2 separate regions of the Homo sapiens genome follow, and region 2 is linked to region 1. The links come from fine-mapping of genetic effects on gene expression. A gene starts in region 1. The other region holds a variant in brackets. All regions are shown on one strand. Distances are between the middles of the regions. Region 1 holds the start of SERPINH1 (serpin family H member 1). Region 2 holds the start of MAP6-AS1 (MAP6 antisense RNA 1).

Evidence for each region.
Region 2: its variant is fine-mapped to the expression of SERPINH1 in monocytes (Schmiedel 2018, PIP 0.95).

What each region holds. Positions count from the first base shown.
Region 1 is chr11:75,560,417-75,564,416 of GRCh38, forward strand. It overlaps SERPINH1 (serpin family H member 1), which reads left to right and starts at 1,837. Exons shown (of 5, transcript NM_001235.5): 1 at 1,837-1,903. RefSeq lists enhancers at 1,517-2,056, 2,057-2,597, 2,598-3,136 and silencers at 1,573-1,832, 1,843-1,892.
Region 2 is chr11:75,580,796-75,585,303 of GRCh38, forward strand. It overlaps MAP6-AS1 (MAP6 antisense RNA 1), which reads left to right and starts at 2,401. Exons shown (of 2, transcript NR_145823.1): 1 at 2,401-2,486. RefSeq lists silencers at 2,419-2,528, 2,539-2,688 and an enhancer at 3,435-4,014. The variant G/C (reference allele first, on the strand shown) is at 2,099.

The sequences.
Region 1 (4,000 bases):
TTGAGGCAGGAGGAAGCACATGAGAACCACGACAGCCACCCCAAAGAGATGGACACCATGCCAAGGCTGGAAGCTTTTGTTAATAATCAGACCTGTCCTAAAAAAGAATGCGGGGCTGCCTCTGAAGGAGGTAAGCTCTCTCTTCTTAGAGGTGCCTCGGTGCTTGCCTTTTTGGGATACTGAGAAGAGGGCTTCTGCCTGGGGCTGCAGACAGGAACCCCTGACCTCTGAGATGCCTTGCAGCTCAGAGTCTTTAATACATTTATTCCAGAATCCTTCGACTCTGAGATTTTAACATGTTAAGATTCCTTAGCTGGATTCAAAGACTCCTTGGGGGCTTTGAGTGGAAGTAATCTCTGATTCCTTGACCCTGAATCACAGAGTCTGAAGCTTTTGGGATCTGAGATTTCCCACAGTCCTTGTACTCAAAAGACTCTGAGCTGCAGAAGCCTACCCAGACAGAGAGGTTTGTCACCACCACCAGGCTTCCCCACAACCACTAACAGAGGGCAGGGACCCAGGTGATTGACTCATTTGCTGGGTACTGGGATTTTTTTGCTCCCCAGGATCCAGGCAAGCACCTAGAAGAAAGAAGATACTCAATGCATTCATTCATGACTGAATGAATGAAGAGTCCCTACCCTGTCCCTTCCTCTCCATACTGCGTCCATCCAATAGCTATCATTAAACTACTAAAGAGGACTTTTCGGAGGGTAGGGAGCCTCGGCTGATCAGAAATTGAGCCACTGTCGCCCAGATTATTTAGGGTTTCCTAAATAATCTGCCTCACTGAATCACTGAATTCCCTACTAACAGGTACATACCCCACAGATGGACATCGCACAGGGCAAGGACTTTGTTCAGCTCTCAGCTGTGTCCTCAGCACCTAGAACAGTAATGAATACCCTAGCTTAACTTGGAGGTCAAGGAGCTATCAGTTTGCGAGGGTGGGGTAGGAATTGACAGTGAGACCTGAGGCCTGTGGGAGGGGACCCAAAGAGGGAGGGGATGCAATAGGGAGGGGGCCAGGGGTGACAAGGATTGAGGAAGGGAGAGAGGGGGGAAAAAAAGCAAGGGATGCCTTAGAACCACATTTCACAGCCAAGGGAACAGAGGCCCAGAAAGGGAAAGTAACCTGCTTAGGGTCACACAGCACCTTGCTCAGTGGAGAGCCAGGTTTTCCTTCCTGTGCACTCCTCCAAGCCCAGCCAGACCACCTGAAGTTCCCCAGGCATCTCTGCCTCTATTACTCCACGACTTGAACTTTCCGGGTGCCGGGCAGGTACCGGGTCTGGTCTGCTCCCTCTCCCTCTGGCCATCGCTGAGGTTGAGGTTTTTTGAATGTACAAGTATGGAGAAGGGCACTGCCTTCAGAAGCCTGAACGTCTCCCCTGAGAGGGAGGGGGTGCACAGGACTCAATTGTTTCAGCTTGAAAATGGGGGAGAGCGGGGAGAAGGGGAGATGGCTCTGCTTGGGGCAGAGCCCCTGCGGGGAAAGGGGCGCCTGAAAGGACGTGCGATTCGGAGTGGGCTAGCTTATGCAGAGAGCCTGGGGGTGGGAGGAAGCTCGCACTCTGAAGGACACGCTGATCCCCGTGGGGACTCCCGGCGCCCCGCAGCCCGGGCCGCCGAGGGAGGCAGTAGGACCCAGGGGCCGGGAGGCGCCGGCAGAGGGAGGGGCCGGGGGCCGGGGAGGTTTTGAGGGAGGTCTTTGGCTTTTTTTGGCGGAGCTGGGGCGCCCTCCGGAAGCGTTTCCAACTTTCCAGAAGTTTCTCGGGACGGGCAGGAGGGGGTGGGGACTGCCATATATAGATCCCGGGAGCAGGGGAGCGGGCTAAGAGTAGAATCGTGTCGCGGCTCGAGAGCGAGAGTCACGTCCCGGCGCTAGCCCAGCCCGACCCAGGTGAGGGGCGGGAGACGCCTGCGTGCGTGCGGCCCGGGGGAGCGCCGAGCAATCTGGGGGTGCGCGAGGGAGTAAGAGGGGCGAGGGGACCCTGCGAAGCGTTGGGTGCCGAGCCAGAGCCTACAAATTGGAGTCCTCGGCACTTTGGGGGCCGCTGGAGGGTTTGGAATCGAGAGCCCAGGGCTAGCCAGTGATGGTGCCAGCTGAGGGCTAGGGCGGAGATCGGAGCCGGGTTGGGAGTCCGTGCACTCGGAGGACTGGGAAAAAGTGCAGGGACCCCTAAAAGGTGGTGGTGGCAGATACGAGACTAGGTGCTGTGTAAAGGGGGCTGGGGGCAGAGAGCAGAGCCTCTGCGGAAAGAAACAGAGGAGGAAGGAGATGGGTCTGGTGCCTCTTCCCGCAAGGGTAGGGAGGATAGGCCGGCCTCGCAGTTCCAGGTCACTTCCGTTCTGGGGTTGAGGCTCAGGGGCAGCGGTGATTGGTGGCCCAGCCTCCTCACAGGCTTGCTGAGGGAATTTGAGCTTCCGGTGGTGGGAAAGGAGGTGAAATCGTCTCGACTCCTGGGGTCCGTGTGCTCTGGTAGAAGTGGGCGACAGTGGCTCAATTTCTGATCAGCAGCTTGCAGCCTAGATGATGGCAGCCAAAGGAAAGACTTGGCCAGCGAGGCTCCCTACCACTCCGAAAAAAGAGAGTGGGGGTCAGCAGGGTCTGCTCTGCTCTGGGGATTAAGGGGCTGACTAGAAGGATTTGAGTCTTTCCTTCTGTCCACTGCCACAGGGTTCTTGGAGTAACTGCAGGGTTTAAACTGCAGGGTCTAACTTCCAGAGGCTGGGGTTCCCTGCCCCCCAGCTTAGAGACATTCCTGAGGTGGCTGAAGAGCAGGAAGGAGAATGAATGCACTTCCAGACTGGCCCAGAGTCTCAGCCCCTCCTCTTCCTTGTTTCCCGCTGGTCCCTCTGGGCTGTACGGCCCGGATGGAGGCCTGAGGAAAATGAGGGGGCTTTGGTTCTCCGGAATTCCGGCCGGGGCCACACCCTCCTGTCTTCAGATGGTTCATGTACCCATCCCCCCTTCCCGTCCTCTCCTTTGTCTCCTCTGTCACCGGGACTCCCAGCAGAGATTTTTTTTTTGTACTGGCTGTGTAACAGGACACCGCATGCAGCCCTCAGGAGGGGCTCTGTGCTTCTGTGAGGAAGGACCCCTGTGCTGGGAAGGCAGACCCCTGTTTATCCCGAGGGACCTGGGGTGACCCCCTGCCCTGGCCTTGTTTCTCCCATTTTACAGTGAGGTGGTCGATCTCCAAGGTCCCTGTAGATTGGGGACTGGTTGTGCCCTCTGCGCCAGGGGCCTCCTCACCATCTCTCCTTTGCCGGCTCCCGCCCTCTTCACTCTTCTGTTTTCTTTCAGAATGAAAAAGGCAGGCATTGACCTCCCTCTGAGGCAGTTTCCAGGTACTTTAGACCTCTCAAGTGTTTGGGACCCTCTGGTGGGGTCCCATCATCTCCTCCCCTTCCCTTCCAGACCCTGCTCAGTCCAGCTAGCTGTGGGCACAGCCCTGGCTAGGTGATCTTGTATTTTCTTTGTGGGACTGTAACTCAGCTAACCTTGGCCTGAGGGCTGGCATTTCTCTGTGGCAAGATGGGCTGGGCTGTGGGAGGCTGGCCTGCTTGCAGTAACTTGCCTTCCCCCATTCCTGCTGCTGGGTTCAGTGGGGCTGCCCTTCTCCCCAGTAGCGCATTTCCCTTCAGAGATTCATGTGCGGATGGGAAGGGAACTAAGGCCAAGAAGGCTCCTGGAGTCCCCTGGCAAATATGTGGCACCCCCTGGGACCTGAGTCAGGCCTGCTTCCCAGGCTGGAAGCCCCCCTCTGCCGGCCGGTGGAGATAGTTCAGCCTCCTGCCTGCCACGTCACCACCAGGAGCAGGCGCTAAGCTGCTGCGGGCCTAGCGGGCTGCCTGAGGAATCCCAAACCAGTTATTTGGAGCTTGCTTGAGAAGCCCCTCCCAGTCCTTTGAGGTTCTGGCTGGTGGGGGTGGGGGCTGTCAAGATGGTACCTGCCACGTGGCATGGCTGGGAGTGGGCTCTTCAGCTGCCTCC
Region 2 (4,508 bases), 21 kb after region 1:
GATGCAGTGGCTCATGCCTGTAATCCCAGCACTTTGGGAAGCCGAGGCGGGCAGATCGCGAGGTCAAGAGATCGAGACCATCCTGGCCAACATGGTGAAACCCCATCTCTACTAAAAATACAAAAAATTAGCTGGGCATGGTGGCATGCGCCTGTAGTCCCAGCTACTCGGGAGGCTGAGGCAGGAAAATCACTTGAACCTGGGGGGCGGAGGTTGCAGTGAGCCGAGATCACACCACTGCACTCCAGCCTGGCAACAGAGTGAGACTCCATCTCAAAACAACAACAACAACAAAAAAAACTAATTTCGCGCCTATGAAAAAAATTCCAACATACATGACAATTAAATAATAGTACACATAGCTGGGCACGGTGGCTCACGCCTGTAATCCCAGCACTTTGGGAGGCTGAGGCGGGCAGATCCTGAGGTCAGGAGTTCAAGACCAGCCTGACCAACATGGTGAAATCCTGTTTCTGCTAAAAATACAAAAATTAGCTAGGCGTGGTGGTGTGCGCCTGTAGTCCCAGCTACTCGGGAGGCTGAGACAGGAGAATCACTTGAACCTGGGAAGCGGAGGTTGCAGTGAGCGGAGATTTCACTACCACACTCCAGCCTGGCCGACAGAGTGAGACTCCATCTCAAAATAAATAAATAATAGTACCCATCACAAAACTTCAATATGTAACGACATTTTGCCCATTTTGTTCAACAGATTCTAAATCCATATTGCAGGGAAGCCGTTATGGTCTCTAACCCTGTTAACTCTTCATCCTTGATGTCTTCCCCAAGGTGACATTCCTTTCTAGTTTTCTTCTGACTCCTCTGCTGCTTTAGGGCAGCCTCCACTTGGGGGCTCCTTCTTTTGCCTGTCCCCTGAATGTGGGTGTTTCCCAGCGCTCTGACCTGACCCCATCCGTCTCTCGCTTTCCACACTCCTGCTGGGTAAACTCACCCTCTCTCATAGCCTTTTTACCTTCTGTGGGTTGGCGAGGCTCACATTTCAATGAGGTCTGCATCTCCGCCTTCAGCTCAGACCCTTTTCCCAGTCTCAGACCACCATGTCCAGAAGTCTGGACACCAAATTGAGTCCATCCTCCTGCCAAAACAAGCTGTTTCCTGGATTCCCATTAATCCACACAACAATAGAGATCTACTCATATTTATTAGATACCAATTTTTATGTAAGAAAAAAATGTAAGATTCTGGAACAAGCCAAAGAAATTACTGCTACATGAAAAAGATGGACAATAACAAGTGTTGGTAAGGATGTGGAGAAACTGGAACCCTCCTACACTGTGGGTGGGAATGTAAAACAGTGAAGCCCTGGCCCACCCAGAACCAGAATAAACGCCGTAGAGGATTTTTCCCCTTTTCCCCCCACTTCAAGAGATGGGCTCTTGAGCACAGTAGAATGATCAGAGCTCACTGCAGCCTTGAGCTCCTGGGTTCAAGCCTCAGCCTCCGAAATAGCTGGAACTACAGGCATGCACCACCACACCCAGCAGAGGATGTTGAACTGATGGCCCAAGGTGGAGAGGGAGTGAAAGTGCAGGTGCTTTGATGGATGAGGGATGGAGTGGCTTCCCTCCGGGAATGAAGGTGTGCAGAAAGGGCCACGCGCCTGCGGGCTGGGTTGCAGGGCCTCTGAGGGATGGGCTCAGATGTGGAAGCTATAGGAATGCCTGGGCAAACTGGGCAGAAATACCACAACCTGGGCAGGCTTTGGGAGGTCCCCAGCCAAGCCCTAGGGAGAGGGAGAGGGGCTGCCAGCCCCCCGGCTTGGGCTCAGGGAAGCCATAGTGATTCTTCTCAGGATGGCCTGAACCTCCTGGAATTGTGATAAGCCCCAAAGACAGGATGAGGCTCCAGGAAAATGACTAATATCAGATTTCCTGTCAACCGTGGCAACGAGAGAAGGGGGCTCCCAGTCTATTTAATTAGATTTACCAAAATAAAGACGTGGCATTTCTTACACCTGAGTGCCATGCTGTGATGCATAGACTGAATTACAAATTGTGAGATGGGTGAGGTAAGAGGGGGTGGCCATAGAGATAGTGAAAAGTGGGCAAATTTGCTATTTAGCAGGAAGGCCAGGCAG[G/C]TCTTACTGATAGTTTGGAAGCTGAGGGTCGGAGACTGGTACTGAAAAGGATTTCCCGGTTTCTGGCTGAGAACTGGGTCAACCCGAGTGCATTCCCACCCACTTCCTCTAGACCATCCATCCACTCAGCGGCACAGACTCCCGAAAGTGTCGCTCCAGTCCGAGTTGGCTCCTGTCCCTTGTCCACATAGACCGTCTCCCCGCTCCCCCAATATGGCACAAGGTGCCTAGGCCGTGTGGGGCGTCGGCAGGTATCACGGGTGGGGTCCATTGTGTGAGGACTAACATCGCGGCCTTTCCCCAGACCAGCCACCGGGGACTCCAGAGAGGCCTCGGCCCAGCTCCCGGAAAGGGTCTCCCAGCCAGGCCTTCTAGCGGCCCAAAGCGGGTAGGCAGAGCGCAGATACCGGGGCCTCTTTCGCCCACCCTCGCCAGGGCACTATCCTTCCCACCGGCCCGATCCCGCGTCCCGAGGTCTCGCGGGGCCAGGCTGCACGGGCGGCGGAGCCCGGAGCCCGGGGCGGGGCCGGAGATGAGCCTGCAGGCGGGGGGCTGTGCGAGTGCGCGGGGACGGGGGCTGCTGTTTCCGAGCCGAGAGCCCTGGTAGCGGGGCTCTGTGGGCGGAGACGCCCTCCCGAGCCTGGGCATCTTCGGAGTGGGACTCTCGGGTCGGAGTTCCGCCGCCGGCCCATCCAGTTTCAGCGGGTCGCCTTTGCCTCTGGGCCGGGTGGGGAGCCTCCCATTCCAGAGACCCCCCGACTCCCTGCCCCTCGCGGCGTAGGGGCGCCCTTTCTGCGGCGCCGCGGGGCCGTCCTCTCCCCTCCCCGGGCGGCTGCAGCAGGGGCGCGGGAGCCCGCGGACTGCGGGGTTGCGGTCGCCCCTGCTTTGTGAGTTCCCGCAGCTGGGAGGAAGAAGGAGAGGAGGGAGGAGGGAGAGGTGGGGAAGGGGACGCCGCGGGAGACTGGGAAGTGGCTGCCGCAGGGAGGAGCTAGGCCTCGAGTGAAGCCTGCTTGTAAGAAGGGCCAGGAGAGTCGGGTGCGCCCCCGCCCTCCCTGCCCCACCCCAAGATGGGGACCCAGAGCCCCTCCTCCCGCACTGGGCCTTCTTTCTGGGTAGTGGAGGGCTGGACTGGACTGAGCTGGGAAGGCCTGCAGCTCAGAGGCGCTGCTCTGTGCGTCAGGACCGGCTTGCAAATGAAGATGTTGAGGGGCTGGCTCTGGGCTCATAGCAGAAACTGCCAGATCTAGCGGCCACCCCTCAGTCCTCATCTGCGCCGGCCCTCCCAGCTTTCGACCCGGCCTCACTGTCTCCTGATTGAATCACTCCGGGCACCACAGTTCCCTGGTTCCTCCTTACAGCTCCGGGCCAGCCCCTCTGAACTTTTTCTGGGCGATTCTCTCTGACCTCTTAAGTCCGCAACGCTTGGAACAGGACCCACATCTCTTTCCATTCTGACACTCTCTGAGGGAGCGCAGCGTCCTTCATGTGGGGCTTGTGACCATCCTCCCCCCAGCCCCAGGGCAGCTGACTACCAGGCCCTGTTTCCAGACGTCTCTTCAGAGGTCAAGCCTTGGTAGCCAGTGGCCTGGACATCTGCCCCCGGGTGTCTCGGAGGCCCTCAGGGAAACCTTGTTCTGCTTCTCAGAGATGGCGCCACGGTTCGCTTGGCCTGTGGAAACGTGTGTGTCATGGGACCTGGTGTGTGGGTCAGAGGAAGGACTGGGAGGAGGAGGAAGGTGTCCACATGCGATTTTTTTTTTTGAGACAGAGTCTCGCTCTATCGCCCGGGCTGGAGTGCAGTGGCTAGATCTCAGCTCACTGCAATCTCTGCCTCCCAGGTTCAAGCGATTCTCGTGCCTTAGCCTCCCAAGTAGCTGGGATTACAGGTGCCTGCCACTACACCCAGCTAATTTTGGTATATTTAGTAGAGACAGGGTTTCACCATGTTGGTCAGGCTGCTCTTGAACTCCTGACCTCAAATAATCCACCCACCTCGGCCTCCCAAAGTCCTGGGATTACAGCCGTGAGCCATCGAGCCCGACCTTCACACGCAATTCTTTAGCCTCAATGTGGCCTTGTCTTATCTTCAGGTTTCTGACTATTGGAGCTCATATGGCAGCAAGCTCTGAGGGCTACTTTTGTGTTGGGCCAAAAAAAGCCAACCTCACTGTGAAGAAACGTCTCTCTCTCTCTTTCTCTGTGTGTGTGTGTGTGTGTGTTTGTGTGTGTATAGACAAAACCCTAGTGCTGTTGGGAACGGGGTGAGGAGGCAGGCTTGGGGCCAGTTGGATGGGGAAGGCTTGCTTAGAAAACTAGACTATTTGGGTGTCCTCCATACTGTATTTCCTCTGATGATTTTCCTGTAAGAACTGAGCTGAGCTCCTTTGAAAGGGATAGCAGTATTCCTTGG